3 separate regions of the Homo sapiens genome follow, and all the other regions are linked to region 1. The links come from fine-mapping of genetic effects on gene expression. A gene starts in region 1. Each other region holds a variant in brackets. All regions are shown on one strand. Distances are between the middles of the regions. Region 1 holds the start of DMTN (dematin actin binding protein). Region 2 overlaps DMTN (dematin actin binding protein). Region 3 holds the start of LGI3 (leucine rich repeat LGI family member 3).

What was found. PIP is the estimated chance that this variant, and not a neighbour inherited with it, causes the effect. A credible set is the group of variants that fine-mapping cannot tell apart.
Region 2: its variant is the best candidate, but not a certain one, in a credible set for the expression of DMTN in whole blood (TOPMed, PIP 0.80).
Region 3: its variant is the best candidate, but not a certain one, in a credible set for the expression of DMTN in subcutaneous fat (GTEx, PIP 0.86).

What each region holds. Positions count from the first base shown.
Region 1 is chr8:22,051,768-22,062,532 of GRCh38, forward strand. DMTN (dematin actin binding protein) reads left to right here and starts at 5,047. Exons shown (of 16, transcript NM_001387751.1): 1 at 5,047-5,369. RefSeq lists enhancers at 1-473, 6,165-7,126, 8,090-9,051.
Region 2 is chr8:22,070,284-22,080,737 of GRCh38, forward strand. DMTN (dematin actin binding protein) reads left to right here. Exons shown (of 16, transcript NM_001387751.1): 8 at 1-51; 9 at 2,043-2,167; 10 at 3,447-3,552; 11 at 9,897-9,961; 12 at 10,129-10,177; 13 at 10,335-10,342. Among named protein-coding and RNA genes, the nearest start is that of FHIP2B, 14 kb to the right of the region's middle. The variant CT/C (reference allele first, on the strand shown) is at 8,222.
Region 3 is chr8:22,151,404-22,162,168 of GRCh38, forward strand. LGI3 (leucine rich repeat LGI family member 3) reads right to left here and starts at 5,403. Exons shown (of 8, transcript NM_139278.4): 1 at 4,934-5,403; 2 at 3,989-4,060; 3 at 3,157-3,228; 4 at 2,739-2,810; 5 at 2,565-2,636; 6 at 428-597; 7 at 86-250. The coding sequence starts at 5,139. It overlaps SFTPC (surfactant protein C), which reads left to right and starts at 10,395. Exons shown (of 6, transcript NM_001317778.2): 1 at 10,395-10,467. The coding sequence starts at 10,426. RefSeq lists an enhancer at 5,436-5,580 and a cis regulatory region at 5,508. The variant C/T (reference allele first, on the strand shown) is at 5,508.

The DNA.
Region 1 (10,765 bases):
CACTCGCTCCCTACATCATCTCTGTGCCTCTCAACACTGCCCTCCAGTCCAGTACATCCGAGTTTGCTCCACTTACCTTCCCTACCATCAACCACAGCTCTACCCACGCCACACTATCCCGGCCAAACTCCTTAGCGTCATCTTTAAGACTCCTGTCCAGCCCTGTCCAGTCTCCCTATTCGGCCCTAGCCCCACAACTCCCCTTTAAGAATACTGGAAAACTGGAACTCTATCAAGCAAGCATGTCCCCATTCTCATTTGAAGGGTCCCCGCCACCTGGCGTGTCCTGCTCTAGCACACACACACACACCCAGACCGCAGGCTCCTCCTCTGCTCCATAGGCTCTTGGCACTACCCCGGGATGAGCGACTGTCTCCACTGCCACTGGTCTTGCCAGCCATTCACTTGCCCTTGCCTTGTGGTACATGTCACAGCTTGTCCAGAACTGTCATGATGTATGTGCTTGTCATGATTCCGCTAAATAGCAAGTGCCCCAGATGTAGAAATAGTCCATCTTTTCCTCCCCGACAGTGCCCAGCACAGTATGTTGCACAGGGTAAATGTTTATTGAGGAAATAAACCACTTGAAGCCCTAGAAAGAAGTCATTGGCCCAACACCCCACCATCCCTCTAGGCAGAGGCAGGAGAGAGGCCAGAATCCTGCCTTCTCCTTCCTTCTTTAGGCAGACGTGGGTGGGGCGGGGGCTTAAGCAGTTAGTCCCAGTGTTTATTTTCCCCCCACAACATTCAAGTCCTGTGCTAATCCTTCTGTTAATAAAAAACATGGACAAGATAGAGCTCTCAAGGCACTTGAAATTTAATTGGAGGGATAAACCCATAAAAAGGCAATTATTTGTTCTTTGGTGGGACTTTTGGAAAACCCTCTCTTACACATGACATAACAAAGCAACCTTTTTTTTTTCGTACGTCCCCAAAGAGGGAAAGGGGAGATAAGAATTATTGGGAATAAGGAAACTAATATGTACCGAGCTCAGGAGATGTGCTAGGCCACACTCAGGGCATACTTGCTTGCAATCCTTCTTTAGGGCAGTGAGATGTTCCCATGTAGCACATGTGGATGAGTTCACACTCAGAAATGCCAGGCCATTCACGGTCTCACAGCTAGTGAGCACTGCACTCTAGATTCTGCCCGGCTTCCACACTTTGCCTGCAAAGTGTGCCCAGGCATCGTGAGTTCTGGGGCAGGAGAGAGCACAGGCCAGGGTGCTTGCGGGGGCTTTGTGGAAGGTCTGGGGTTTGCATGATTTCAGATGATTTCAGTGGAGAAAATATGCACAGAGCGGAAAATGACGAGAGGAAAAACGGGCACGAGAATCAAGGCGGCAAAATGGGAGGTGTGCTCCAGGGAAGGGGAATAGTCCGTCTACTTGGCTGGAGCTGAAATTTGTGTAGAGAAGTGGCAGGAAGTGATTGGATCAAATGATGAAGAGTTTGGTCCTTATGCTGTGGCAGGGAGGAGATGGTGAGGGGCTTTGCGGGGGCCAGATGCAGTGGTCTGGTGGCAGCATGCTGAAGGAGTGGAGGCTCTAGGGTCTGGGCAGCAGAGTCCAATGCCCGGAGGCAGGGGCACATGGCTCCCAATCTCTGGTGAGAATGGTGGCTTTGGGGCCCTCATCCTTCCTTTTCTTCAGGTCTCTGTCACCCTTTCCTTCCTCCCTGAGTGTCCAGGTGCCCTGGCTCCACCTCTCCCGAAGTTAATGTTTAGATAGCTCCCCCGCCCAGCAGGTTGGTGTGTAGGGTGGGGCCGGGGGGCACTGGAGTGAGACAGACCAGACGTGGACAGAGAAGCCTATCGACAGGGCCTGGGGGAGGGAGGAGGCAGCAGGGCCGGAGTCCACCCAGGACATCTGGCACCAGTGACCTTGTGGGGAAAGGAGCCAAGAACGGGGCGTCGGGGGGCCTGGGACCCCCCTGCCTGAGAGATACAGGAATCCTGGCCCCGTGTTGTGGACACAAGCGCCCATCCTCAAGGTCCTGAGAACTCCTGAACTTCCAAAGGTATGAGAGCCCTGGCAGCCGCCTCCTGCCTGCTCAGTATGGAGCAGAGCTGAGGAAGCCCACCCGCCTGGGGCCTGAGCCAACAGGCACCTGTTGTTCAGTGTTGCCAGCTTTCAAGGGGGAGAATCTCCCCTCTCAGACAAGCCATGGGGGAGTTCAGTTCAGCTGGCCTTGAGAGGTCAGAGGCCTTCCCAGGGGGAGGAGGCCGGAGGCAGAGTGAGTCTTCCCATGGGACAAGGACAGTGACGAGGTAGGGTCAGAGGATGGCATGGGTGAGAAGGGTCCCCTTGCCTCCCCTCTGAACGCCCACCACCAATACACACACACACACACACACAGACACACACACACAGCCCAGATCCCTGGCAGCAAAATGACCTTGGCAGCTACCACTCCTCAGGTCGACAGAGGGAGCCCTCACTCTGCAGTCCCCTTGGGTCCAGGCCTGGCTGGGCTGAGCACTCTTCCTGCCCAAGGTGGCCCGCCCGCCCCACCCATGGAGGGACATTCCGATAGAATGTGAGACTCAGGCATGGTGGGGGACAGTGGGAATGGGGCCTTGAGGAATTGGAAGAGAGCTGTCCCTTGCTCTGAGTTTTCTCAGGTGGAATGAGAGAGGGTTTGGGACCAGGTGAAGGTGCTCACAGAGACGGCAGAGGTGTGGGGCCCGCAGCCGCGTGCCCAGTGCAGCCAGCGCCCAGGGGCCTCTGAACCCTGCCGGAGCAACCCCTCTGGCCCTTCAGCACAAGGACTGTCCCTGCCTTGCTGCCTGTCATTGTCCCGAGCTCCACACTGGGCTTCCTGGAGTGGGGACTCTCCCCAGTGCTGCATACTCTTCAAGACTGGCCTGCTCTCCAGCCCTGAATTAGGGTTCTCCTGGGGTCACCCCTAAAGCCAATTCTAGAGCCTTATGAAAGGAAGTGGGGGGATGGGGTACTTGGTGGGGTTCACTGGGCACCCTAGCTCCTGAAGCTGTCCCCTAACCCCCAGCCCCAGCACTGAGGACCCACCCTCAGGCCCCCTCCCTCCATCTCTGAGGAAGAGGCAGCGGGAGGCACAGCTTCCTCCTCCCCCCCTCCCTGCTGCCGCGGCTGAGCCGGGCCTGAGCTGCCGGCAGGTTGTCTTGGCAACAGGAGGTGGAGAGGAGATGCGCCGAGGGATGGAGGTGTATGTCACCGAGGAGGCTGCTGCGCTCCTGCCCCACGCCCTGGGCCCTTGAAGGTACCGAGCACCCTCCCCTCCTTCTCCCCTCCGCCCTTTCCCCTTGACTCCCCCTACTCTGCCCTACATGCACTGGCTTCAATAGGAGGAGGCACCCCTCCTCCCAGGCCCAGCGATTCTACCCATTCCTCATCACCCACCTCGTTCCAGGCCCCTGGCCACAGCTGTCCTTCCTGGCATCAGCTCATTCCAACTCTACCTCTGGGGACCCTTGCACCAGAAGACAGCTCTCCTGGGGTGGGGCCTGGTGGGGGAGGGGCAATACAGGGGAGGAACCCAGGTCGGGGTGCGGCGGGGATCAGGAATTCTAAAGGGCTGAGGTGTCAAAGCCCCAAGTACCTGGTCCGCTGGAGGGACCGAGAGAGATCATCTAGGGCTGGAGTGGGGCTGGGGCTTCCCCTCTGTCTCTCAGACTCTGATTAGAGGGAAGTAAGGGTGGGGTTGAAGGTACAGAAAGCCGAGAGGCTGGGCTGAGGCCGGGCTGGTTGTGGAGCGATGGCTGGAGTGGCTCCTCCTCCAAGGCTGTGCCCCTTTCTGCCACATTGAAGGTATGCCCCCTCCCACATCACTCTCCTGGCCTTTTTCTCTGCAGTTCCATGGATCTGATGCTTCATCCCCCACCCCCAGGTTTTCTCTACCTTCACAGCCACCCCCGCCTGGCTGCAGCAGCTCAGCCTGTGTTCTGTCTCCCTTCTCAGCCACCTGCCTCCTTCCTTCCTCCCTTCTCTCTGGAGCCCATCCCTCAGGTTACTGTCCTCTCTGTCCCCACCAGCCAGATACTTTCTGTCCCCTCCTGGCCTCTTCCCTCAAGCCCCTCCCCCTGTGCTTCTCCATTCAGACACCCCAGAGCCCCCTCCCCAGATTCTAGATTTCCCCAACAACAGCTGATACCATCAGCTGACCGGCTGGGGGCAGGGTTGCCAGGGCAACGGTGAGGGCTGCCTAGGTAGGCAAGTCTGCGGTGTGGAGGTGGAGAGGACATTGGGGCCAGGGCGAGGGTCGAGGGCAAGGCTTGTTGTCCTTCCCCATCCTGCCCAGGGGGCCCGAAAGGCCAATGAGAGGCTCCTGGGGTGGTTGAGGCTTTGCTAGAGACAGGGAAGGCACATGCCTGTAAATTCTGTGCTGGGACCCAGGGGTTACCAGGCAGGAAGCTCCTTTTTCATGAAGCCACCCTAGGGAGAGATGGGGTCCTTCTCTCTCTCTGCTGCATCCCATTGGAGTTCCCAGGGGATTCAGGTTACTGAGGGGCCAGCTCAAGTCTCAGTACTGAGGACCTGGTTGCATCCCTCCATTCTACCCTCCCAGGAGAGAGCTCATCCTTGGGTAACCAATTCTGGCCTGTGCCTGCACCCCCACCTCAAGAGGCTGGGCCCCAGAGGCCTCAGTTGCTGCTGTCAGATGGTGGGGTGGTCATGAATAGGGTAGGAGGTGCAGGTGCCTGGAGAAAGCAGGCATTGTCCGCCTGGGTCATCAGTAGCCCCCTCCCTCGACCCACCGCCCACAGCAACTTGAACTCTGGCTGTTTAGGAGGAGGCTGAGGGGCTCTGGGTGCGTGTGGGTGTGTGTGTGCGTGTGAGTGCTGCAGACTGCGGTGTGGGAAAGGGAGAGGACAGTGCTGGCTGATTCTGCTTTGTCATGACGCTGGGTTAATGCTCCTCTTGTTTGAAATGGATTGAGCTGCAGCGCTGGTGGAAGAGCGCGCACATCCACACACACACCCTTGCCAGCCACACGCTATCAGCTGGAAGTGGGGAGGGCGCGGGGAGGGCGTGGGGGAGCCAGCAGCCCGCCCGCCCTCCCGCCCCCAGACGAGGACTCCCCAGCACCGGGGGATCCAGGCGGCCGTGCGTTGCAGAGAAGCAGGGTGGGGGCAAGGAGGGTGGGGGCCCAGAGGGGAGATCAGACCGCTCAGCCGAGACCAGCTCCCCTCCTTCGCCAGCTCCCACCCCGCCCACCCACCCTAAGCCGGCATTTTTCCTGTTATTTGTGCTCCGGGGAAGCGCCGCGGGGTTCCTGGAAGAGACACCTATTACCTAGGCTCCTGGGGGAAGTGACAGCCCGTGGATCTGGCCTACGCCTCTCGGGCCTCTGTGGCCTCAGAGCGTCTGGGCCACACTGTCTGGGAAGAGGTAGGTGGCAGGGTCTCCGCCTCTCCTCCCCTCTGTGGGCACTCTGGGCCACAGCGCTTGCTGGCGAGCCAGGCTTTGGGTGGCAGCAGGGTATCTGGGGGGAGCCCACTGTGGGCCCTGTTCAGTGGGAGGATGGGCCGGCCCCTGGGACCAGCTGGGCCTGATCTAATGGAACCTTCTGATCTGGGGAAGAGGGCCTGGGGTGTTCTCATCCCAAGGATGAGAACTGCTCCCAGCCCAATCCCCTCTTTGCCAGCATCTCTGCCTGGCCTACCTAGCTGAGCAGGCCAGCAATGGAAGGGATGGACTGTGGGGGCACGGGGTGGGCAGGGGAGCATTCCCTCTCTGCTGAATACTGGCCCGCTGGCCTCCCCAAAACCACTCCACATGCTCTGGGGGTTGGAGCAGTACATTTAGGGGCCTGAGGCTGTTTGTTTGGAGCCTGCTTTTTAGGGGGAGTGGGAGGAGAGCCTGCCCCCAGCCAGTGGCTGGCCAGGCTGGGGTGGGGCTGAGTGAAGAGTGAGGCTGTGGCAGGGCGCAGCTGCAAGCCCAAGCCCAGTACTCCCCCTGTGCCCGCCGCTGGGGTGCTTGAAGGGGCCAGGGCTGAGCAGACATGCAGCCCCCACAGGGTTCTGGGGCTCCCCCTCCCTAGCTCTGTCCCTCAGGGCCTAGCAGGTCCAGCCCCCTTTCTTGGGCAGACACACCCAGTGTGTCCCTTCCAGGGACCAGTTGCCTGGTTGTGAGAGTCAGGGGAGCAGGGACAGGTCCAAGACAAGGAAGGCAGTTGGGCTGTGGGAATGGGGAGCCCAGGGAAGGCCTCCAGAGCTGGGTAAGTGGAGGGCTCTGTGTATGTTGCTGTACACGTGCACTACTCTGGGATGGATGCCAGGGAGAGGACCGGTGGGTGGGTGTGAGCGGGTGTTGGCAGCACCATGTGTCACAGTGAGGGGGCCTCGATGGGAGAGTGGGGGCATGAGCTGGCACACAGGGCTTCGGAGTCTCCCCGCGTGCATGCGTCCTGCAACGGTTTCAGCGCGGGCGCTTCTGCCTGTGCCCACCTGTCCATCTTGTGTCCGTGCTGCCGGCCTCTCTGTGGTCAGGCGTTAGACTCCTGGGTGAGGTTGTCCACCCGTGGGTGGATGTCTGCAGAATCCCTCTCCTAGAGCTCCTGGGTGTTGTGGGACTGGAACAGGGAGGCCCTGGGATCCAGAAAGCTGAATTGAGGCTGCATCTCCCCCAGCTCTGCCAGTCCCACTTGTACAACAGGACCAGCTATAAATGGAGGGGAAGCAGTCCGCCTGAGGGGGCTGCAGGATGCAGAAAGCAGAAAGCGGGGTCTCTTCAGAGGGTGGGTGGAGAGGGCACATAGAAACCAAACCAGAGAGAGACCTAGGAGAAGATGGCTGCACAGATGCGTCTCTGGGTGGGCTAGAGAGGCAGGAGGGGGCACCTGGGCCCGGTTTTGTTGTTATTGAGAGAACAAGGGAGGGCAGGCCTTGAGCAGGGGGACTCTGGGCTCCCCACCCACCCAGGCCTGGTCCTTTATCCGAGTATGAGAGGGTGCCCTGTAGTGCTGGGTTAGGGGAACCCTCATCCCAGCAGACACAACGGTAAAAAACATTGGAGTAGGGGAGAGGGAGAAAGTGGGAGAAGAGGAGGGAGTCCCCAGGCTCTGCCAGCCTTAGGACAGACTTGGAGTTCAGGCTTCGCCTAAGTAAGGGACACCTCTGATGAGCCACTGGCCCAGAGCAGGCCTCAGCCTCCTGGTGTCCTTTTCCAGTGGCGGGGGGGTGCGGGGAGCAAGGTGCCCTACCCCACCCACATCACACGCATGCACAGCACCCATGGGAGCGCCTGGCCCCTGCCCTGCAGCGCCGCACTGCTCCACCCTCCCTGCCCCTCCCCACCCAGGATGCTGTTTTGGGAACTGGTGACCTAGCTGGATTCTGCCTTTATTTCTGGCATTGAATTGTTGCCACAGTAACTGCGGGGGTGGGGCTGGGTAGGGGAGAGGGTGAAAGGGAAAGAGGGAGGGAGGGAGAAAAGATGAAGAAAGCCAAGAAAAGGGACCAGAAGAGAAAGCAGAAAGACAGGAGGAAGAAAGGGAGAGAGGGCCAGGCAGTCGCACTGTGAACAGAACAGGAGAAGGCGAAGCGGGGCAAAGTTCCCTGCCCACCGACGCCAGCCTGCTTGGATGACTTGCCTCGTTTCATAATTCACTTACTGTCTGCACCAGCCGGCCTCCAGCCTGGCTGGACCCTGCTGCCTGTGTGGCCCGGAGCCAGAGGCCCCCACACTCCCAGCTGCTCTTCTACAGATGCCATCAACGAGCAGGACTCTGGGTGGCTCCACTGTCTAAGGTTAGCACGTGGGACCCCCAAGTCCCACATTTTGATTGAACTGGGATCTTTGGTACTCATTGAAAAGAGCACTTGGCTTTGGCCTCAGGCAGGCCGGGGTAGGGATTCTGGCTTGGCTTCTATTTGGGGGGCCTTCGGCAAGTTCACCTCTCAGCTTCATTTTTGCTCATCTCTAAATGAGGAGAATGTCGTTTTGTGTGAGGTTTAGAGACGATGTATGAAAGTCCCAAGTATACAGGGGCTGCCACCAAGCAGGTAGTGGTTGGCTGGAAACAGGAGCACAGCTAGACCAGGGGCCCTCCACCCCGAAGTTGCCATTCTGCCTGCGGAGGCTTCATTTCTAAAAGTCCAGGGGAGCCACAGTCTGGATCAGTTTCTGCCTGGAAGAAGAGCGCGCCAGGATGAGTGGGCACAAACTCGGAGGGCCCAGTGGGCGGGTCTTATCACCCACATCCTGGGGAGCTGTGGAGAGGAGAGGGTGGTGGGTGAGGTGGGGCTGGGCTGGTGGCTCAGATAAGGCAGGGACACACAGCTGGGGGAGGGTGGGGCTGAGATGGAGGGCGAGCGGCTGGCTGGCGTCCGACCAGGGCCAGGGGCAGCTGAGCTGTCCCTTCCGTCACCTGGACCTGCCTTCCTCTGTGGTGCTCTCTCTTCCTCCCTCCCTCCCCTCTTCCTGCTGCAGCTCGCCCTTTCTATCTCTTTGTGCACGGAGGTCGCTGGGACCTTGGGGATGCAGGCACAGACAGGCGGGGTGCATGGATGGGAGAGGGGTCTGGATGGGAGGAGGTGGAGTGAGCTGGCACTTGACCTGCGAGAAATGAGCTTTGATGGAAAGGGCTACTTGTGGGTGGAGTAGGCAGGGTGTGATTTGAGAGAAGCCAAGGAAACTCTCTCTCTCTTTCTCTCTTTCTGTCTCGCTCTCTCTCTCTCTCTCTCCCCCTCACACATGCGCACGCACACACACATATACACACACTCTTCTCCACCCCCATTTTCCCGGCTGGCCTTCTGACAGCTTAAAATTTAACCAGTACAAACATTATGCCTTAAGGCTAGGCCCACGTTTACGTGCAAATGCCCCACAAGGGGTAAGACAAAATTTCTGCCTCTGTGGAAATAATTTATCAACCAACATGCTCTCTAACAAATGGCAGGGGGTGGCACCAGGGTGCAGGGCCCTGGCTGACCCCAGGAAGCAGACCCAGATGCTAAAGCGCAAGACCCAGCAGTGGGGTTGTGGGCAGGAAGGGACTGGAGACAGAGCAGAGGTGAGAGGCCAGAGGCTTAGTGACTCACACCAGCTTTGCCTGGGTAGTATCCTGGTGAATGGTTTTAGAAATCAGACAGACCTGAGCTTAGATTCCACACAATACTGTGTCCTTGACCAACTACTTAACTTGTTCAAGTCTCAACTTCTTCATGTGCAAACGAGGTACTCGCCAATCCAAGCCAACCCACAAGATTGGAATGTAAGGGTTAAATTGAAACAAAGATGGGCTGGGCAGGGGCTCACACCTATGATCCCAACATTTTGGGAGGCAGAGGTGGGAGGATCACTTGAGCCCAGGAATTCGACACCAGGTTGGGCAACATAGGGAGACCCCATCTTTACAAAAAAAAAAAAAATTTGTTTTGAATTAGCCGGGTGTTGTGGAGTACTCCTGTAGTCCCAGCTACTCGGGAGACTGAGGCAGGAGAATGGGTTGGGCCTGGGAGGTCAAGGCTGCAGTGAGCTATGATCATGCCACAGTGCTCCAGCCTTGGTAACAGAGTGAGACCCTGTCTCAAAAAAAAAAAAAAAAAGAAAGAAAGAAAGAAAGAAAAAATGTGAACTGCCCAGCACAGTGCCAGCTGTAACACAGACGTTCTATAAATGGCAGCTGTTCATATGACTGTGACCATCAGGATTTTGAATCATGTTTCTGAGTGCCTGTGCCTCTGGCACGGTATTTGTGCACGTGTGAGTATGGGGATATATGACCACATACTCCTGAGACATGGCTTACCCTGGGCCACTCACCTTTCACCTCTCTGAGTAGCCACCACTCTGACAGATAGCCACTTTCACACTCTGTGCCCCTCCCCCCGGTGGTGTTTCAGGAAGATTCCAGGGCCTCCCCGAGGCTCCAGAACACACTGAAGTTATCCAGTCTCCCTCCTGCCCCTCTCTGTGTGCAGCTGCACATGCTCCTCAGAGTGACCCCTCCAAACCTCTGACTCACCTGTAAGATCTGCAGAGAACCTTAATTCTCATTTTTTTTTTTTTTTTTTTTTGGAGACAGAATCTCACTCTGTTGCCCAGGCTGGAGTGCAGTGGTGTAATCATAGCCCACTACAGCCTCAAATCCCTGGGCTCAAGTGATCCTCCTGCCTCAGCCTCCCAAGTAGCTGGGACCACAGATGTGCACCACCATGCCCGGATAATTCTTCATTTTTTAAAAAGTAAAGACAGGGCTCACTATATTTCCCAGGCAGACCTCAAACTCCTGGCCTCAAGTGATCCTCCTGCCTTGGCCCCCGAAGTGTTGGGATTACAGGCATAAGCCTCTGTACCTGGCCACCATCTCTCACTTTTGCTGGGAAAATGGAAGCCCTGTATGGTTGTTACCCAACTTCTTTCCCTGTCCTCTCCTTTCCAGGGAGTGCAGCAGTGACATGATCATAGCTCACTGCAGCCTTGACCTCCTAGGATCAACCCATCCTCCTGCCTCAGCCTCCAAGTAGCTGGGACTATAGGCGTACTTCACGACACCCAGCTAATTAAAAAAAAAAAAATTCCTTTGTAGAGATAGGGTCTCTCTATGTTGCCCAGGCTGGTGTCGAATTCCTGGGCTCAAGTGATTCTCCCACCTCTGCGTCCCAAAGTGTTGGGGTTATAGGCATAAGCCACTGCCCAGCTCATCTTTGTTTCCGGGGAGCCTTTCTTCCCAAAGCCAGTCTTGTACTTGGCTGTGAACTTGATCCCTTCCCTCCTGCTGCCGTCTTGCTCCACCCACCTAGTGCCCACTGCCCCCTGCAGCCTCAGTCTTTCCTGTC
Region 2 (10,454 bases), 18 kb after region 1:
CCAAAATCGAAACCGACTACTGGCCATGCCCCCCGTCTCTGGCTGTTGTGGGTAGGAGAGATGGGGAGAGTGGAATGGGTGGTCTGGGAAACTCCTGCACTCCCTCCCCTTGGCTCTTGCTGCAGTCCGTGAACCCACTCCCACCCCTGCCCTATGGTGTCCTCGTGGGCTTTTTCCTACCTTCAGGAGCCCCCAGGCTCCTTGCTCACTCACTCTCTGTGTTCCCATAGCGCTTGGTGTAAGTGGCCCTTTTATTGGTCATTCATTTGCTTTCCATTCATTTATTTCCTGACTCAACAGACATGTATCAAACTTCTGCATCCCAGGCTCTGTGAGGGGAGCACTGGGAAAGAGAAAGATAAATGATAGATGGTTTGGTCCCCAGCGAATTTTATTTTAATTTTTATTTTTATCCATTTATGGGGTACAGGTGTAATTGGTTACCTGCATAGATTGCACAGTGGTGAAGTCAGGGTTTTTATGATATTGTTATCTGAATACTGCACGTTGTATCCATTAAGCAATTTCCCATCACCACCCCCCACACCCTTCTGAGTTGCCATGGTCCATCATCCCACTCTCTACATCCATGCGTACACACTATTAAGCTCCCACTCATGAGTGAGAACATGCAGTCTTTGTCTTTCTGTGTCTTGTTTGACTTAAGACAATGGCCTCCAGTTCCATTCATGTTGCTGCACCCACTGAATTTCAGTCATGAGTGTGTGTATGTGTGTGTTGCCTACCCAGCTTCATGGCAAGGTGAGAAAATGTTACTCTTATTTTATTGTATTTTTATTTTATTTATTTATTTATTTATTTATTTATTTGAGATGGAGTCTCACTCTGTTGCCCCAGGCTGTAGTGCAGTGGCACAATCTTAGCTCACCACAACCGCCACATCCCGAGTTCAAGCATTTCTCCTGCCTCAGCCTCCTGAGTAGCTGGGATTACAGGCATGCACCACCACACCTGGCTAATTTTTTGTATTTTTAGTAGATATGGGTTTTCATTATGTTGGCCAGGCTGATCTCAAACTCCTGACCTCCAGTGATCCACCCGCCTGTCTCCCAAACTGCTGGGATTACAGGCGTGAGCCACCATGCCTGACTCTCTTTTTAAATGTTGAGACAGGAAGTCTTGCTCTATTGCCCAGGCTGGAGTGCAGTGGCGAGATCTCGGCTCACTGCAACTTCTACCACCTGAGTTCAAGCGATTTTCCTGTTTCAGCCTCGCAAGTAGCTAGGATTACAGGTGCCCACCACCACACCTGGCTAATTTTTATATTTATATTTATATTTATTTATTTATTTGGAGACAGAGTCTCGCTCTGTCACCCAGGCTGGAGTGCAGAGGCCTAATCTTGGTTCACTGCAAGCTCCGCCTCCCGGGCTCACGCTATTCTCCTGCCTCAGCCTCCTGAGTAGCTGGGACTACAGGCGCCCGCCACCACGCCCAGCTAATTTTTTTGTATTTTTAATAGAGATGGGGTTTCACCATGTTCGCCAGGATTGTCTCGATCTCCTGACCTCGTGATCCGCCTGCCTTGGCCTCCCAAAGTGCTGGGATTACAGGCGTGAGTCCCCGCGCCCGGCCTATTTTTATTTTTAAATATTTATTTGTTTATTAAGACAGGATCTCACTCTGTTGCCCAGGATGGAGTGCAGTGACTCCATCACAGTTCACTGTAGCCTCGAATTACTGGGCTCAAGCAATCCACCTAGTTCAGTGTCCCCAGCAGCTGGGACTACAGGCATGCCCTACCACCCCGGGCTAATTTTTTAAAATAATTTTCTATAGAGACTATATTACCCCAGGCTGTTCTCAAATTCCTGGGCTCAAGCGATCCTCCCACCTCAGCCTCCCAATGTGTTGAGATTACAGGCATGAGTCATCTACCGACCCTACTTTATTTTTTAAAAAAATTTTGTAGTGGCCTTATCAAGGTCCAGCCCAGAGCAGTGCACAGAGGCTGTGCCATGTAAACACACACTGACCCCATGGCGAGTGACTCCCTCCCCACCTTTGCTTGTGTCTCCTAGAGACAGAATGGAGGAAGCGGAAGGCGTCTCGGAGGGGAGCAGAGGAAGAGGAGGAGGAGGAAGATGACGACTCTGGAGAGGAGATGAAGGCTCTCAGGGAGCGTCAGAGAGAGGAACTCAGTAAGGTAGCATCTCACCACCCCCACCCTCCACCCCTGTGCAGGAGTCTCGCTCTGTTGCCCAGGCTGGCATGCAGTGGCATGATCTCAGATCACTGCAACCTCCGCTCCCAGGTTCAAGTGATTCTCCTGCCTCAACCTCTTGCATAGCTGGGATTACAGGCACGCCACCACCTCGCCCAGCTAATTTTTTTTTTTTTTTGTATTTTTAATAGAGATAAGGTTTTGCCGTGTTGGCCAGGCTGGTCTCGAACTCCTGACCTCAAGCGATCCGCCCACCTCGGCCTCCCAAAGTGCTTGAATTACAGGCGTGAGCCACTATGCCCAGCCCACCCTGTGTGTCTTTCTGGGGACAGAAGTTCTGGCTCTGTAGCTAGTCGAAGGGGTTCCTACCCGAAAAGCATGCTTTTTGGAACATGTTGGGGAGCCGCTTCTTGCCAAGACCCCAGGATTTTGCTTTTGAAGGGACACCTGGACTTTATGCTGCTTTCTGGGGGACACTACTTGATATAAGGGTCAAAAGCACAGAAAAGGGTGGTCCCATCAGAGCTGGGAGCTAGCAGCCTGAGTGATCCATGGGAGGAGAGAAAAGGAGAGCATGGGCTACAGGCCTCCAGGGGAGGAGGGAGAACCATGGAAAGACCATTGACAGTGACATGGGCCTAGGCTCTGAGCAGGGTGACCTGGGACAAGGACAGGGAGGCCGCCGTGGTAGAGTTCTACCAAGCAGCGCTGACTCCTGGCTTTCAAGGGTGGCCAAACCCATTGTGGCCATGTGTCAGCCACGAACAAGAGGCTCTGTGAGCTCCAGGGCACAAACCAGCCACTTGGGAAATGTCCGCAGTCCTGCCTGCAGCATGGCCCAACTCTAGACCTTTTAGAGATAAGAAATGAGTATTGGCCCAGCACAGTGGCTCACACCTGTAATCCCAACACTTAGGGAGGCCGAGGCAGGAGGATCACTTGAGCCCAGGATTTTGAGACAAGGCTAGGCAACATGGTGAAACCCCATCTGTATATAAAAAAAAAACAATTAGCTAGCTGGGTGTGGTGGTGCATGCCTGTGGTCCCAGCTCCTCAGGAGGCTGAGGAGGTTGGATTGCTTGAGCCCAGGAGGTCAAGGTTGCAGTGAGCCATGTTTGTGCCACTGAACTCCAGCCTGGGTGACAGAGTGAGACCCTGTCTCAAAAAAAAAAAAAAAAAAAAAAGAAAGAAAAAAAAAAAGAGAAAAAAGAAACATTCAAGTGTCTAAGTCTTGGCTCCATCTTCCTTTCTCCCTCCTCAGGTTACTTCCAACTTGGGAAAGATGATCTTGAAAGAAGAGATGGAAAAGTCATTGCCGATCCGAAGGAAAACCCGCTCTCTGCCTGACCGGACACCCTTCCATACCTGTGAGTGCTGTGGAGGGGGCTCAGAGTCACCTGGCCAGAGATGGAGGCCTGACTCTGTGCATCTGTTGACTTGTGACACATACAGGATGCAATCCCTGACCCAAAGCACGGCTGCTCTCTTGGGAGCAAGAATCCCAGTCATGGAACAATGTCAGATGATAAATGAGAGAATCGGCTAAAATAGAATTCAGCAAGTTTGGTTTAATTTAACAACCATTTATTGAGCGTTTACCATGTGCTAGGCACTGGGCATATAAGCAGGGAAAAAATCTAGTCTTGTCCTCTGGTAGCTTGCTGTTGGCGGGGAAACTGTCATGGAACGTGGGATTTCGATGCAGTGTGGCCGGTATTGTGATCAAGGTGCGCGGGGTGCTTTGGGAGCACAGCAACAGGGCCTGGGAGGCCAAACTGAGGGGTTTTGTTGTGGTTGTTTGTTGTTTGTTTGTTTGTTTTATTGAGACAGGGCCTTGCTCTGTTGCCCAGGCTGGAATACAGTGGTGCACTCTCAGCTCACTGCAAACTCCACCTCTCAGGCTCAAGCAATCCTCCTACCTCAGCCTTCTGAGTAGCTGGGATTAAAGGTGTGCGTCACCATGCCTGGCCAATTTTTAAAATTTTCTGTAGTGACAAGGTCTCACAATGTTGCCCAGACTGGGCTCGAACTCCTGGACTCAAGCAATCATCCCGCCTTGGCCTCCCAAACTGTTGGGATTATAGGTGTGAATCACCGCGTCCAGCTTAAACTGAGTCTTGAAGGCTGAGACCAAGCAAGCCAGAAAAAGTGAGTGGGAGAGCGCATTGCAGACATTGGGAATGGTGTGGGAGCGAAATTGGGAACATGAAACATCTGGCTGGCTGAGCCTCCAGGAGTCTGGAATTACAGAGTACAGGGTACACTGTGGGGCAGTGGGCAGTGAGACCAAGAGATGGGGAGCGGGGCAGGCTTTGAATGGCGTGGCCCACTATCCAGCGCACTACCCTGGGCTTCCTCAGAGCTTGGCGGCTGGAGAGGAGAGGAAGACCTGAAAACCCAGCAATGAAAGCTGCAAAGCCTCTTAAAGCCTAAGAGGGGTCCCGGCATGGTGGCTCACACCTGTTGTCCTAGCACTTTGGGAGGCCGAGGCGGGCGGATCACAAGGTCAGGAGTTCAAGACCAGCCTGACCAATATGGTAAAACCCCGTCTCTCCTAAAAATACAAAAATTAGCCAGGCATGGTGGCGCATGTCTGTAATCCCAGCTACTCAGGAGGCCGAGGCAGGAGAATTGCTTGAACCCAGGAGGTGGAGGTTGCAGTGAGTCGAGATGGAGCCACTGCACTCCAGCCTAGGGAACAGCGTGAGACTCTGTCTCAAAAAAAAAAAAAAGAAAAAAGCCTAAGAGGAAACCACATAGTGTCACTTCTTCATTGTAGCTGCCAGAGCCAGTCACTGGCCACCTAGACTCAAGGGGAGGGGAGCTAGACCCTCCTCCTCCCCCTCCCCCTTCTTCTTCTTCTTTCTTCTTTTTTCTTTCTTCTTTCTTCTTCTTCTTCTGGCAGGGTCTTGCTCTGTTGCCCAGGCTGGAGTGCAGTGGCACCATTTTGGCTGACTGCAACCTCTATCTTCTGGGCTTGAATGATCCTCCTGCCTCGGCCTCCTGAGTAGCTGGGATTACAGGTGCATGCCACCATGCCCAGCTAAATTTTTTTTTTTTTTTTTTTTTTTAGACAGAGTCTCACTGTCACCCAGGCTGGAGTGCAATGGTGTGATCTTGGCTCACTGCAACCACTGCCTCCCAGGTTCAAGCAATTCTCCTGCCTCAGCCTCCCGAGTACCTGGGACTACAGGCACACACCACCATGCCCAGCTAATTTTTGTATTTTTATTAGAGACGGGGTTTCGCCATGTTGGCCAGGCTGCTCTCAAATTCCTGACCTCAGGTGATCCACCTGCCTTGGCCTCCCAAAGTGCTGGGATTGCAGGCGTGAGCCGCTGCGCCCAGCCAAGACTCCACTTCTTGATGACAGGTACCACAAGGTCTCATTGCAGAAAGCATGAAAGATGGGAGGCAACAGTGCAGGCCATCTTTGGAAATAATCTACCACACTCTCCAATAGACTGGATAAGGGCTAAAAAACGATGTGGGTCCAGAGAAGAGGGAATGGATTTGAGAACATATAGACAATTGAATCCGCTGGATCGAATCCAGTGGCTGATTGGACGTGGGAGGTGCAAGAGAGAGAAGCTGAGGTTTTTGTCTTGGGTGCTGGGTGATGACCAACTTGGAACTGAGATAATAAGAGAGGCGGATTTTCAGGGAAAGATGAGAGACTGGTTTTGGACATGTGGGGTTTGAAGTGCCCCATGTACAGCACTGTGGGTGGAAGGTGCATCTGGCAGAGTTGGGAGCTTGAGGGTCTTCAGCTTGCTCATATGTGGCAGGAAAATGGTGAGGAGAAAGTAAGATTGTACAGAGAGAGGAGGGAAGGGTGCCTAGGGCTTCCATTAAAGGTCCAGTCGGGGCTCATGCCTGTAATCCCAGCACTTTGGAAGGCTGAGGTGAGAGGACTGCTTCAAGTCAGGAGTTCAAGATCAGTCTGGGCAACGTAGTGAGACACTGTCTCTATAAAAAATAGAAAAATTAGTTGGGAGTGGTGGCATGTGCCTGTAGTCTCAGCTAGTTGGGTGGCTAAGATGGGAGCTATGATTGCGCCACTGCAGTCTAACCTGGGTGACAGAGTGGGATCCTGTCTCTAATTGTATATATATATGTATATATGTGTGTGTGTATATATATATGTCACTATATATATATATACACGATATATATAGTGACATATATACACATATATACAGTGACATATATATATAGTGACATATATATACACACTATTTTGGGTGACACCTGGGTGTCCTATTTTTTCTTTTTTGGGTGACATATATATACACACACACACACATATACATATATATATATTAGAGGGCTGGTTTGAGGACTGGTTGAGATCGAGCCCCAGAATGTGTGGGAGGCTGGCCTTCAAAGGCCTCCCCTGTGGGATGGGAACTTGGATCCAGGGGCAGGCCAGATGAGAAGCCGAGGTTGTCTGCTGAGCGTTAGAGGGTGAGACTTGGTGAGAATGGCGAGGGTTTGGAACTGCCGTGGAGGGGAGGAGAAACGTGCGAGGCTTGGCCTTTGTAGTGATGCTCATCTACATTGTGTGGGCTGTATGTCCACAGCTGGGGGCAGGATGGGAGCTGTTGGGTTGACCCTGGGTTAGCGTTTTTAAGGATAGGTGCTGAGGGGCCAGGCTGCACCATGGAGGAGCTGATAAAAGTAGTTGCTGTGCCCAGCCACAGAGCCGAAACTGAGAAGGTAGTGACAGAAGGTGGGAGGTGGGGGAGGTAGGAGGGGAATGAAGAAACTGGAGTTCTCCATGAGGTTGCTGGGCTGGGTGGTGGGGATGGAGCTGAGCCAAAGCCACAAAGTGAATGGTCCAAGCTCACAGTTTCTAGGCAGCGTGGTGCAGCTGATGACAAGATCCTGGGCATGGCTCTTTGAAAGGGTTATCTCATGTGGAGCAGAGGTGAAAACCACTGGAACTGGGGAATTCAAGGTTAACATGTGGTTAGGACATCTGAGTGTTCCCCAGAGCTCTCAGGATGCTGTCTCTGTGGGTGGGAAGAGCTACAGAGGTTTATTAGAGAATGTGGAATAAAGAGTTAAGGCCTAAAGAATGATGTGGAGAGAGGATGCGTGAAGGTTGGATTCAGTGTCAGTGTTCTGCCAGAATCTTCTGTTCAGCCCAGATTAGCTCTTTAACTTCCATTTTGGCCTCGTGAAGTTGAAATAGCCAGATGCCTACCTCTGGATCATCTTTGGCGTCCCTGAACTTGTGGGTGATTAATGATCACATGACTGCATAGGTTACTGTCATATTTAAACAACCTGAATTCTAGAATCATGAACAGGCATGTCATTCTGATTAAATGGTGACACTGGAATAGTCGCTCTGGAACACACGTAAGCATTTTATAATAGAAGTAATTTGGAGGGGAAAATCTTCGTGCAGGGTTTGAAGGTTGAAATTCTATCAGTTGGTTGAATAAATGTGTACTTATTATTCTAAGAGTGAAATGCTTCAATAGTGAATGGTGATTGTGAAAGCTATTTTCTAAATAAAAATAAGTGTTAGGGGTAAAAATGAGGTTTTGTTCTCAATAATCGAATGCTTCCAAGCAACAGATTTCATAAGAGTATTTTAAGAAGAGGCTGGGTGCAGTGGCTCACACCCGTAATCCCAGCAATTTGGGAGGCTGAGGCAGGTGGATCACCTGAAGTCAGGAGCTCAAGACCAGCATGGCCAACATGGTGAAACCCTGTCTCTAACAAAAATACAAAAATTAGCTGGGCATGGTGGCGCGTGCCTGTAATCCCAGCTACTCAGGAGGCTGAGGCAGGAGAATCACCTGAGCCTGGGAGGCAGAGGTTGTGGTGAGCCAAGACTGTACCACTGCACTCCAGCCTAGGCAACAGAGTGAGACTCTGTATCAAAAAACAAAAAATATATATATACATATATACATATATTCATATATATGTATATATGTGAATATATACATATATATGTATATATTAAGATAGTTCCTCATAGTTTTGAATCTATGGAGGTTAACTATTTATACAAAAATG[CT/C]TGTGGAAACAGTTGGTATAAATGCCAGCCATTTCCAGCAATTGGAGGTGAAGGCATTTTGAGATCACCTCAAGCTAAGGATCTTAGGTACAAAGTTATTTCCAGGAAAACATATTACTGGAAACAAATTTTCCTGAATTATAATCTGTAGTACTTCAGAATTTAGAGATCCTATTAAATGTGCAAGTTGAGACTGAGGTCCAGTAATGCTGATGTGAAGTTGTTGACTGCTGGTACAATCCCCAGTGACAGTGCTTAGAACATGACTCTTTCTGTAGTATAATGTCAGACTGTTTTTTTTTTTTTTTTGAGATGGAGTCTCGCTCTATCACCCAGGCTGGAGTGCAGTGGCGTGATCTCCGCTCACTGCAAGGTCCGCCTCCCAGGTTCACGCCATTCTCCTGCCTCAGCCTCCCAAGTAGCTGGGACTACAGGTGCCTGCTACCACGCCCGGCTAATTTGTTTTGTATTTTTAGTCGAGACGGGGTTTCACCATGTTAGCCAGGATGGTCTTGATTTCTTGACCTCGTGATCCACCCACCTCGGCCTCCCAGAATGCTGGGATCACAGGTGTGAGCCACTGTGCCCAGCCTAATGTCAGACTTTTAAAATTTGATTACTAGGCCAAGCATAGTGGCTCACACCTATAATCTCAGCACTTTGGGAAGCCAAGGTGGGAGGATTGCTTGAGCCCAGGAGTTCAAGACCAGCCTGGGTACCATAGTGAGGCCTGGTTTCTACAAAAAATAAAAATAAATAAATAAATAAATAAATATATATATATATATATATATATTAGCTGGGTTTGATGGCGCATGCCCCTAGTCCCAGCTACTGAGGAGGCTGAGATGGGGAGAATCACTTGAGCCTGGGAGGTTGAGGCTACAGAAAGCTATAATCACACCACTGCACTTCAGCCTGGATGACACACGGAGACCCCATCTCAAAAATAAATAAATAAACAAACAAACAAATATGAATACTAGCTGAGCAGGTGGCCCATGCCTGTAGCTCCAGTACTTGGGAGGCAAAGGCAGGAGGATCACTTAAGTCCAGGAGTTCAGGTTCAGCCTGGGCAACATAGTGAGACCCTATCTCTATTAAAAATTTTTGGCCGGGCACGGTGTATTTTTTAATAGAGACAGGGTTTCTCCATGTTGGTTAGGCTGGTCTTGAACTCCCAACCTCAGGTGATCTGTCCACCTTGGCCTCCCAAAGTGCTGGGATTACAGGCATGAGCCACCACTCCTGGCCAAAAAAAAAATTTTTTTTTTTTAGATTTGATTACTAACATTGTTAATAAAATTATAATAATGTAATTATTGTGATTCGATTTTAGTTTTCTTTGTGTATCCCAGAGGTTCATTTTATGATGTGAGCCTTGGCTCTGGCTGACTCAATTTTCACATCAGGCATTGGGCCCAGTTGTATATTTGGGCCACTTCTAGCTGGAGAGAAGAGGGATGGTGGTAGAGACAGCTGAGAACCACCAGCACTGTATTGCTTGCTGAAGGTGACCAGTAGGAGCTGGGAGCTAGCAGAAGCCCACCAGGTTCCCCCCAGCGTGATCCCTTCCTGCCCTGCCCCAGCTGTGGAAGGCCAGTGAGGTTGCTGTCTCAGGAAGGGCTGTCAGGGCCAAAGGGACTGAACTCAGGACCTTTTGCTGTCTTCCAGCCTTGCACCAGGGAACGTCTAAATCTTCCTCTCTCCCCGCCTATGGCAGGACCACCCTGAGCCGGGTAAGGTCTCAGGACCAGAGATATAGACTACGTGGGAGGAACGTGCATGTGGGGTGCTGAGGGACTGAGCCACTTGGGCACCCTCAGGGAGCGGGGAGACCCCCAAAGTGAAGGGGACCAAAGGTGAATATCCCCGACTGCCTCTGATTCCTTTGTGTCCTTTCTAGCTACAGTCCACAGAGTTCAGCCCATCAGGGAGTGAGACTGGAAGCCCAGGTGAGAAGTGGGGCCTGGTGCCGGGGTCTGGAGAAGGGGCTTACACAGGTCCCTGGGCAGCCGGGGTCTGGGCTGTGGGCAGGGGTCTGGTGAGGTCAGGCGTGTTGGCCTGCTGACCTCAGAGCTGCATCTGACCCATGCCCCTTCTCTCCCGCAGGCCTGCAGGTGAGTGCCTCCTGGAGGGGAACAGGCAGAGCAGCAGAAGCTGGGTCCTGGCACCCGAAAGTGTCAGGGGAAGGGGGGTGTGGGGCCACAGAGTTGCCTGGTGAAGAAGAAG
Region 3 (10,765 bases), 100 kb after region 1:
ACAGGAACTCAATGGGGTTGAACGATGGAGCCCACTCCCCCCTCCCCCTAGCAAGGGCCAGCAGAACCAGATTGGGCGCAGGTACCTGGGATTCTATCATAGTCTCGAAGCTGCCGCTCAACATAGTCCCACTTCAGGATGGTGCAGGCACTGACTCCTGGCTGGGCCAGAGCCAAATAGAGGTCACTGGAGTAGAGGAAGGGCTCAGCCGACACTGCTGGGAAGGCCAGGGTCTGGTACAACACAAAATCTGCAAGATGAGAGGTGCGTTACTGAAGACCAGAGGGAGAAGGGAAGGGCTGCTTGGGTGATGGTGGTTGCTTTACTGCTGCCGCTGGGTGTTGTGGGGCAGGGTGGGGGGTTTCGTGTCTGTAAAGCTGCCTTGGGGTAGGCGTGGACTGACACCCAAGGCAGGGGCACCTCCTACCTGTGGTGATGCAATCGAACTCCCGCAGCGGCAGGTCCTGCACCTTGTGCTCCTGGAAGCGGGGCGGGCTGGCGCAGTAGATGGGTGCCACCGTGGTGTTGGTGTGTGCCAGCCACTCCACCAACCACTTCACCTTGCAGTCACAGTTGAGTGAGTTGCCCCGCAGGTCCCTGCATCATGAGGGCAGAGGAGGGGGGCACAGAGAAAGACATGCTCTCAGGGCTCTGCCTACCCAGGCCCTCCAGGTTTTCAGAAATAGAGCTGGTCAAGGCTGCTGCAAGTTGCTCACATGCATCTTTGTAAGATTAGAGAAAAGTTTCCCTCTGGCTGGATGTAGCCCCACAGACACAGGCTTGGCCAGCAGAGTATGGAATCAGTTTCAGTCCTTGCTGACTTCTTTGGCTAGGTTGGCTTTTGCAGTGTGCATCCTGCACAGCTGTATGTTGCATCCCTGCTCCTCTAAGCCTCCCACAATCCAAGGCTTTTATTTTCTTATAAATAACAATAAATGAGTGTGGCTCTGCTATATACTACTATATGCTATATATTCCTTACTCGAAACTTTCAAAATCCCCTCCCGCTGATTGGACTTTAATGTAGAGTCCAATCAAACATACATTTAAAAAGCACAGGCTGGGCATGGTGGCTCACACCTGTAATCCCAACACTTTGGGAGGCTGAGGTGGGCAGATCACAAGGTCAAGAGTTTGAGACCAGCCTGGGCAACGTGGTGAAATCCCATCTCTACTAAAAATACAAAAATTACCCAGGCATGGTGGCGCACACCTGTGGTCCCAGCACTTGGGAGGCTTAGGCAGGAGAATCGCTTGAACCCGGGAGGCAGAGGTTGCAGTGAGCGGAGATCACGCCATTGCACTCCAGCCTGGGCAACAGAGTGAGACTCCGTCTCAAAAAAAAAAAAAAAAAAAGCACATGTTGGCCGCGCACAGTGGCTCAGGCCTGTAATCTCAGCACTTTGGGAGGCAGAGGCGAGTGGATCAACTGAGGTCGGGAGTTCAAGACCAGCCTGACCAACATGGAGAAACCCCATCTCTATTAAAAATATAAAATTAGCCAGGTGTGGTGGTGCATGCCTGTAATCCCAGCTACTCAGGAGGCTGAGGCAGGAGAATTGCTTGAACCTGGGAGGCAGAGGTTGCCGCGACCTGAGATGGCACCACTGCACTTCAGCCTGGGTGACAGAGCGAGACTCTGTCTAAAAAAAAAAAAAATTTTTTAAAGTACTTTTTTTTTTTTTTTTTTAATATTTTGAGACTGAGTTTTGCTCTTGTCGCCCAGGCTGGAGTGCAATGGCATGATCTTGGCTTACTGCAACCTCTGCCTCCCAGGTTGAAGTGATTCTCCTGCCTCAACCTTCCAAGTAGCCAGGATTACAGGCGCCCGCCACCACACCCAGATAATTATTGTATTTTTAGTACAGACGGCGTTTCACCATGTTGGCCAGGCTGGTCTGGAACTCCTGACCTCAGGTGATTCGCCCTCCTTGGCCTCCCAAAGTGCTGGGATTACAGGCGTGAGCCACCACACCCAGCCTTTTTTTGGCTGAGCACGGTGGCTCAGCACATTTTTGGCTGAGCGCGGTGGCTCACACCTGTACTCCCAGCACTTTGGGAGGCTGAAGTTGGCAGATCACAAGGTTAGGAGCTCGAGACCAGTCTGGCCAACATGGTGAAACCCCGTCTATACTAAAAATACAAAAAATTAGCCGGGCGTGGTGGCGCACACCTATAGTCCCTTAGTCCCAGCTACTCCAGAGGCTGAGGAAGAATCGCTTGAACCTGAGAGGTGGAGGTTGCAGTGAGCCGAGATTGTGCCACTGTACTCCAGCCTGGGTGACAGAGTGAGACTCCGTCTATAATTAAAAAAAAAAAAAAACACACACACACATTTTGAAAACATACACACATGGTGTCTCAGGTGCACTTTGAGAGAAACTCCAATTTGGAAGGCTACCATCTATATCTAACTCCACCTCCTCACCTCCTCAGGGTCCCCCCACCCAAGCCTTCCCAGCCTCTCAAGACCTTATGACCATCCCAATTCTGACTCCCACACCACTCCCTCCAGGGATGCGCCCTCTGCGGCACTGTTGGAAGAGGCAGGACTCAGGCCTTACAAGTCATTCAGGATGTCCAGGGGCCGGAAGATGTCTCTGGGCAGTGTCTGCAGGTTATTGTTGGCCAGCGAGCTGCAAAAGAGACCGCCAGGTCATCTGAAGATCATGAGCAAGGCCAAAGGCCACAGGAGAGGTGGGGCTTTGGTGCAGTGTGTGTATGTGTGACGTACTCACAGGTGAGTCAAGGACTTGAGTCCTCGGAAGGTGAACTTGGATAGTGCCCAGATGTCATTGTTCTCAATGAAGCTGGGGAAAGCGGGAACTTGCCTCAGTGCTCACACAGGATGCCAGACCCCCAGCAGCACTCGCCCTACGCCCCAGCCTAGATTTCAGCCCGTGTCCCCGAGACAGGTTTCCAAATGGAGTCTGGCATCACCAAGCCATAGAGATAGAGCATCAGGTAGGGTAGAGGCAAAATGAATGAAACGACCTTCTGCTCAGGTCCTGCCATCACGGGATGCAAGGGCTCTCGCCTCCCATCACCTTCCCTTCCTGCGGCATTCTCATCCACTCCCTACCCAGTCCCTCGGCCTCCCAGGCCTGGGGTCCCCCTCCCTTCTGCTTTCCCATTGCCCCTTTCCCTCCCACACACAGATACTGCAGGTGCGACAGTCCTGTGAAGGCGTTGTCTCCAATCAGTGTAAACTTGTTGGAGTTGAGTAACCTGCAGAGACAAAGGTGGAATTAGAGCTTCCAAGGGTGTGCCTGCTGCCCCAGCCCCCAGCCCGCTGCCTCAGCCCTGGGCTTCCCCAAGACATGACTGCCCTGCTGCTACCCCTGGGGACCCCATGGGGAATCCCTGGGCCACCTGGGCAACAAGGCCAGGCAGGAGCCTGTTCTGGCCCCAGAAGCTCCCAGGGTCCCTGTTGGATCCTAAACATGGGCCAAGGCAGAGCTCTCTTGTCAAGCCAGCTCCTGGTCCTCCCGGGTGGCATCTCCTCTCCCTCTCCCCCACCCTCATTCTGTCCCATTCCAGCCCCTCATGGACAACTGTCCCTCATGGACGGCATCTTGTAGGGTTGGAGACACTCCTGCCATCCCTTTCTTTCAGCCCCCAGCTCTTTCTGGGAACTCTGATTCCTGGGATCACCTGTCTCTAAGATGGCCCCACAGTGCCCACCTTGGGCACTAGCCCAGGCTATCGCACCCAATTCTCTGGGGTTTCCAGAGCAGCCAAGCCCATCCCCGCATCCCACTTGCTTGGCTTCTCTGTGCCATCCCTAGCTGTCCTCCTGCTGCCCCGACTCCCCTGACTCAAGGCTGCCCCGTCTTTTGGGTACATCCTATCAGAACAAAAGCAAGGGACACCTGCATCTTCGTCTGCAGAGGCTGCCTCTGTCCACTCTCCCTCTCCCCAGCCCAGGATTTGTCCCCTGCTACCACCCCATAGTTCCCCCAACCCTTCCACAAGGCCCTATCCATACAAGAACTGCAGCAGCGGGAGGTGGGAGAACGCTCCATCCTGGATCTCTGAGAAGGCGGCATTCACCAGGGTCCTGCGGGGACACCCGAGTCAGTACTGTGGGGTCTGCAAGGGCTGTGCTGAGGCAGGGAGAGGTGAACACGGAGGGCAGTAGCTTTTGTACTCACTTGCCCTGGAAATGCCCCATTTCACCTAATTTAGCCCCCATCTGTGTGTCTTTCCCTTCTCCTCCCAAATTCACTGCCTGCCTTCACCAGGGTCCTCCCCTATTGCCTCTTGGGGCACCCATGGCCCCAGGCTCAGCTTCCCTCTCAGGCAAGAAAAGGTTCCATCACCCACACCGTTGTCATCATCATCCAAACACCCACAATGGGCTGGGTGCTGTTGAGAGATGGGGCATGGGGGTGGGGGCTGGCATCCTGGTCCCCAAGGACCTCACAACCTCTCTGGTCCCACAGACAAGGGGGAGCCCCTGAGGCTGGCTGTTGTGAGTGACAGGCTGGCCGAGCTGAGTGCCAAGTGGCTGGTCAGTGGCGGGCATGTGCCCCATGCCAGGGTGCTGGGAGGGCATAGCTCATTCTCATCCTGCTCTGGCCGCCACTCTCCTGCCCTTGGTGTGACATCACAGGCAGGGGCCCACATGCTCGTGTAAGCAACCCCCCCAAGTCTGGAGCACAGCACACAGTAGGTCTCACTGTCGCTCGTGGTGATGATGATTCATTCTTGGTGGTGAACTCCTGCTTTCCCCACCCATGGCCGCTGAGCCTGCAAAACTGCAGAACTCCCTGCCCGACTGGTGCCTGGAATCTCCAGCCCTGAGGACCCCTGCAGTCCCCCTGGTCCCCGCACTCTGAAGAGGGGGAGCGGGGGTTCTCCTGTCCTCTCCCAGAGCTGTCCTCGGCCTCCTCTCCCTCCCCAACCCCCAAGGCCAGGGCTGGACACTCACAGGGAGATGACCTCCGAGGGCAGGTTCCTGGGCACCGCCTTTGAGTCCACGCAGAAGGCGGTGTCCCTGGTGCAAGAGCAGCTGGGCGGGCAGGGGGGCGTCTTGGGGGGCCTCTTAGCGCTGACTTGCAGCATGAGGCAGAAGCCGAGCGCGGAGAGCGCCAGCAGCCCCGGCCCCGGGCCCCCCCTGGCCCGCAGCCCCGCCATGCTGCCCGCGATCTCTCCCTGGGGCCGGCGGCCGCGGCCCCCGCCCCACCGCTCCCGCGGCTGGGCCACCCCGCGCGGGCTGGCACCTCCCTGCCACCGGCAGCTGCTACCGCAGCCAGGGGCCCGCCTGCGGACTCCTCCTGCCCTCGGGCGCCGGCTGCGGTCCCCTCCCCTGCTCGCTCCCGCGATCCGGCTCGGGAGAGAAGAGCGGAGCGCGGAGCTGGAGCCGCAGCCGGGGCTGACCGCGCCGGGTGGCTGCGGACTGCGGCGCGGGCGGCGGGGGCGCGCGCGGGGCGGCGCGGGGCCTGGGAGTCACGGAAGGGGAGGCGTGGCCGCTGTGTGCTCTACCGGGCGGTCTCTGGGGCCAT[C/T]CGCGTGTGGGGCTGCGCGTGAGTGCATGCGTGTGAGCTTGTGCTTGTGCCTCTGCTGGGCACGACTGTGCGCGCCGGTGCTCACCTGTCTCTGCACGGGCACATGCACTCACTGCCTTGTGGAGGCGCTTCGGCGTTAGGGATCCCTGTGCTTCTGTCTACCTGGGTTTCTTTGCATGGGGGGACACATCCCCTAGGCAGCATCATGGGCATGTCGTGAGTGACAGACGCATATCTAAGTTAGCATGCAAGATTAGAAGCACAAGGGCGTCCTGGAGGAGTCTGAAGTGCGCTTCTAACCGGATTCACATGTTTTTCCACGCGCCGCTGAACAGAATGTACCTTTGTGTCAGCATGAGCTGAAAAGGGAAACGCAGCCTCTGGAGCTGGAGTGGGACTGTGTGGAATTCTGGAACATTTCTCACGCTCAACCACAGCCTGTTAAAGCTGGGAAGCGCTTTGGATATTTTTCAGTCCAGCCCTTTGTCTAACAAATGAGGAAACTGAGGCCCCCTAAGCTTGCTATCGCAAGTGCTCTGTACTTTCCCTACTTAATCCTCTCAATCGTTTGAGGCAGGTGATAGTAATTCCCTTTTACAGACAAGAAAAGTGAGGCCTGTCGCACCAGAAGAAAAAGGTATCAGCAGGGATTTCCGCCCACTCTGCCCAGCTTCAAGGTTCACGGTCGTCCTTCCATGCACGGCTCTTCCAAGTGTAGCCCTGGGAGCCCGGGGGTCCTTGAGAACCTTTCAGGAAGTCTCTGAGGTAAAAACAATTTTCCTAATATTGTTAAGACATGATTTGCCCTTTTCACTTCTATGAAGCTCCAAATTTAAAAGATTTCCAAAACTGTAAAGAAATGACACTTTCTCTCTAATTTTATTTTGCTTTGTAAAATAATTTTGCTTTGTAAAATCGTTTTTCCATTAAAAATGTGATTTATGTCATAACCTATATTGGGTTTATTACTGATATTTTAAATTCACATGTAAATAAAAATGTAATTTCTCAGTAAATATCAACAGACATATCCCACATAAACAAAAGCTCTTGGGGGTCCTCAATACTTTTTGAGAGTGTTAAGGGGTCCTGAAAACAAAAAGCTTGAAGACTGCTGCTCTCTACCACGTTAGCTCCCCTGTGGCGGAGGATGACTGTCCTAAGAGCTCATAGGCACGGGGCAAGGGGAGCCTGGCTGTCAGCTGCCTGGGCTTCTAGTCTTGTGCTTTTTGCACACCAGTCCAGGGAACGAAGACCACTGGCTTTAAGATGCTTCCCCAGCTGTCCCCAGACTCTGCCAGCAGGGGATTCTCTGGTCTGAGCTTAAGTTGTGTTCTCCCAGCCAGGGATGCCCCTGCCCTTTGATGTCTCCTTGCTGCCACACATTTAGCCGCCCTCCCCATGCCAGCTTGGGGGGAGGGAAGCAGTGAGGGTAGGGAGGTGGCTGGGGCAGCTGGGCAACTGTCCCCACCCGTCCCTGGCACGGCTCTGCCCAGTACACAAAGAGCAAAGTGAATCTTGTCCCCACCCCTGCAGCTGAGGGGCTGGAGGAGGAAACGGGGAGGCCCACACAGAAGGGGTGGCCACCGTGGGGCTGTCCATCACTCAGGGCTCTCAGAGGGAGTCAACCCAGAAACAGACAAAGAGGGTGAGTCTGGGCTGTGTTCTTAGCTAGTGAGAGGTCCCCTAGAGGATGAAGTAGATGATGCTAATGAGGATGACTGGATGTCACACCCATGATGCTATTAGGTCCTCATAATAGCATAGTGAGGTGGACAGCTAGTACCTGACCCATCTCACAGATGAACATACTAATGCCTAACAAAGCAGAACGACTCACGCTGGGTCCCAGAGCTGGCCAGTGGAAGCACTGAGACCTCCACATACTGAAGGCATGGACTATTGACCGCTGTTGGTATTGGTCTCATCATTGACTATCATTAAGTGTTGGCTGTTTGCATGCTTCCTGCCCAGTGGCAGGTTCAAAGAAGCCCGCAGGAAGCGTGCTCCTTTCTTTCCCAGGGCCCGCAATTGGGCTGGAAGATAGAGCAACAAAAAGCGCCCATGTAACTCATGGGAACATTCATGTGTGCTGAATGGCAGGTGAAGGTGCCACAGAGAGGCTGAGGATTTCAGAGGGCACCATGAACTGGAGTGAGGTCGCAGAGCAGGTGCCATTGGCTCTTGGCCTGTTTGGGTGGGTGGCATTCAGAGAGGTGGAAGGTCAGATGCACTGTTCACGCCTGTAATCTCAGCACTTTGGAAGGCCAAGGTAGGAGGATCACACGAGGCCAGGAGATCAACGCTGCAGTGAGCTATGAAGCTGTGATTGCACCACTGCACTGCAGCTTGGGTAACAGAGTGAGACCCTGTCTCTAAATAATTAAATAAATAAAATAAAAATAAAACCGGAGAAGTGGAGAGGGATTGGAGGTGGGCTTTCACAGAGGGAGAAACGGCTTAAGTACAGGCCAAAAAGTGAGAAGGCTGCAGACAGGGCTGGTAGGGGGAGGGGGAAATTTGGCACACCCAGCTAAAGGTCCTTCTGTGTCTCCTTCTCCAAGGAACCCAAGACCTTCACTTGGTTGGTGTGAGCACTCCAGGAGGCAGGCACCCTCCCTCAGCCCTCAAGCAAGCAAAAATGGGTTTAAAAAAAGAAGGAGAAGAAGCAGCAGCAGCAGCCGCCACAGAGCTTGTGACAGCTACAGCCTAAGGGCAACAGGCAGGGGAGACCAAGGACCAGAAAGAGCAGAGGCTTTTTCAAAGAAAGAGATCCCTCTCCCAGCACCCAGCGATGGCGGCAAACCCCACCCACAGTGCCTGCTAAGAACAAGTCCCACGTGAGAACAACATGGCCCCCCGAGATGCCCACAGGGACCCCGAGATGCCTGCAGTGCTTGGCTCTCCCGCTGGCCAGCTGCCCACCTGGCTCAGGCCCAGTACTCGTGAGTCAGCCGATCAATCCCAATGTTGCCAGGATGATGGGGGCGGGAGTAAGGGCCCTGGGGGAGGGCAGGGGTGGGCACTGCAGGCGAGCTGTCTCCCACATCTGGCACCTGCACACAGCTGAGGCCGAGCTGAGAGGATGCTTCTGTGGGCTCCCCCTCCTCCCGGCACCCCTCCCCTCCTTTCACTGTCCTAGGACACTCTCTGGCTGCTGGAGTCTTAGGCAAATATTTAAAGGGGCAGCAAGGGGGTGAGGAGGGTGGTGGGAGCAAACACTTCCCTCCCTTTCTTCCTCCCTGCGCTTCTCAGGGGCTCTCAGTTCAGATGCCATGCTGTTATGCAACCTTGGGGCTGAAGGCCCTCCAGATGGAGAGGGGGACAGGGGAACCTGCCAGCTCATGACCGAAGGGCAGGGCCCAGGTGGGAGGGGGCTGGGGCAGGGGACAGGAACTGGGGTGGCATGTTAAAGGACAGGAGGCTGGTTGGGCATGGTGGCTCACACCTGTAATCCTAGCACTTTAGGAGGCCGAGATCACTTGAGCCCAGGAGTTCGAGACCAGCCTGGGCAACATGGTGAAAACTCATCTCTATAAAACAAGCAAAAATTAGCTGGGCACAATGGCATGCACTGGTAGTCCCAGCTACTTGGGATGCTGAGGTGTGAGGATCACCGGAGTCCAGGAGGTCAACGCTGCAGTGAGCAGTGATCTCGCTACTGCATGCCAGCCTGGGTGATAAAGTGAGACCCTGTCTCACAACAAAACAAAACAAAACAAAACAAAAGGATAGGAGGTTAAGGGAGCGAGCCCAGGCCTGGACTCTGCCACAGTCACCTGAGTTTAGAGGTGAAGGGACTTTAGAGACCACCTGGCCCAAGGAGTGAAAGGGAACCTGAGAGAAAGGGTGAGCCAGCCCAAAGTCATTGGCAGATTTGACCTCGTAAATACATAGAGATGGCTTTGGGAAGGCACTAGGAAAGACAGAGAAAAGAGAAGGAGACAGTCCTCAAAGCTGATCGTATTTGGGTGAGTATTATTCTCAGGGCAAATTTAGGATCAGAGGATGCAGAAAGGGGAGTCTAGAGGGGTAGAGTGTAGACCACAGGGTGAGTGAGCTGATTCGAGGATGGGGAGACTGGGAGCCCACCAGTGACCAGAGCCAGCCCTGTTCAGGGCTGTCCGGGCAGAAGAAAGCAGTGTCAGACCTGGAATCTGCCATCAGCACAGCCTGCAATTGACAGACAAGCCCAGAGCAAAGAAGGAAGCACTGCACATGAGTAAGAGCTTGCCACCAGTGGGGACAGAGTTTCCAGAATTAGGAAAATAATCACTGGGGGCAAGTTTGAGGTTGGTACCAGATATGTGGGAGGAGGCAAGGTAAGGGAAAGAGTACTTGAAGTTGGAACTGGTCCTTGCAGGGAAATGCACATTTATGAAACCCCGAAAACTGATGTCAAAGCACCTCCTGCCTTGGGCAGAGTCCTCTCAGAGTCTACAGGTGCTGCCTCCAGAACCCTCTTCCTGGAGCGCATCCCTATGTATCTAGAAATTCTGCTGGGAAATATGATGGTCAGACCCTTGGCCACCTGAAAGGTTCAGGGTGGTAGAAGAAAAAGGAAAGCCACAGGGCAGCAGGGGCAGGTGCCAGCAAGGAAGGCAGGCACGCCAGGAAGACACCCATGGTGAGAAGTGCAGATGGCCCGAGGGCAAGTTTGCTCAACTCACCCAGGTTTGCTCTTGCTGGGGCCAAGAGGACTCATGTGCCAGGGCCAAGGGCCCTTGGGGGCTCTCACAGGGGGCTTATCTGGGCTTCGGTTCTGGAGGGCCAGGAACAAACAGGCTTCAAAGCCAAGGGCTTGGCTGGCACACAGGGGGCTTGGTCCTTCACCTCTGTCCCCTCTCCCTACGGACACATATAAGACCCTGGTCACACCTGGGAGAGGAGGAGAGGAGAGCATAGCACCTGCAGCAAGATGGATGTGGGCAGCAAAGAGGTCCTGATGGAGAGCCCGCCGGTGAGTGTGGTTGCGTGTGTGTATGTATGTGTGCGCGCGCACATGTGTGTGATGGGCCCTGCCTCCTCTATCCTCCCTGGCCTGTTTCCTTATCCAGATCCATTCACTCAACTAACCTAGGACTGTGATAAGTCAGGATGGGGACACCAAGACCACTAAGCCAGGGACCCTTGGGGAGCTGTTTGTGGGCCAAGAGCCACTATAGGGGTCCGTAGAAAGGGCTGTCCGTAGACAGCCCTGAGTCAGAAGCCATGAGAAACTTCAGAAGTCAGGGGACACTTCTCAGAGAAAAACCACA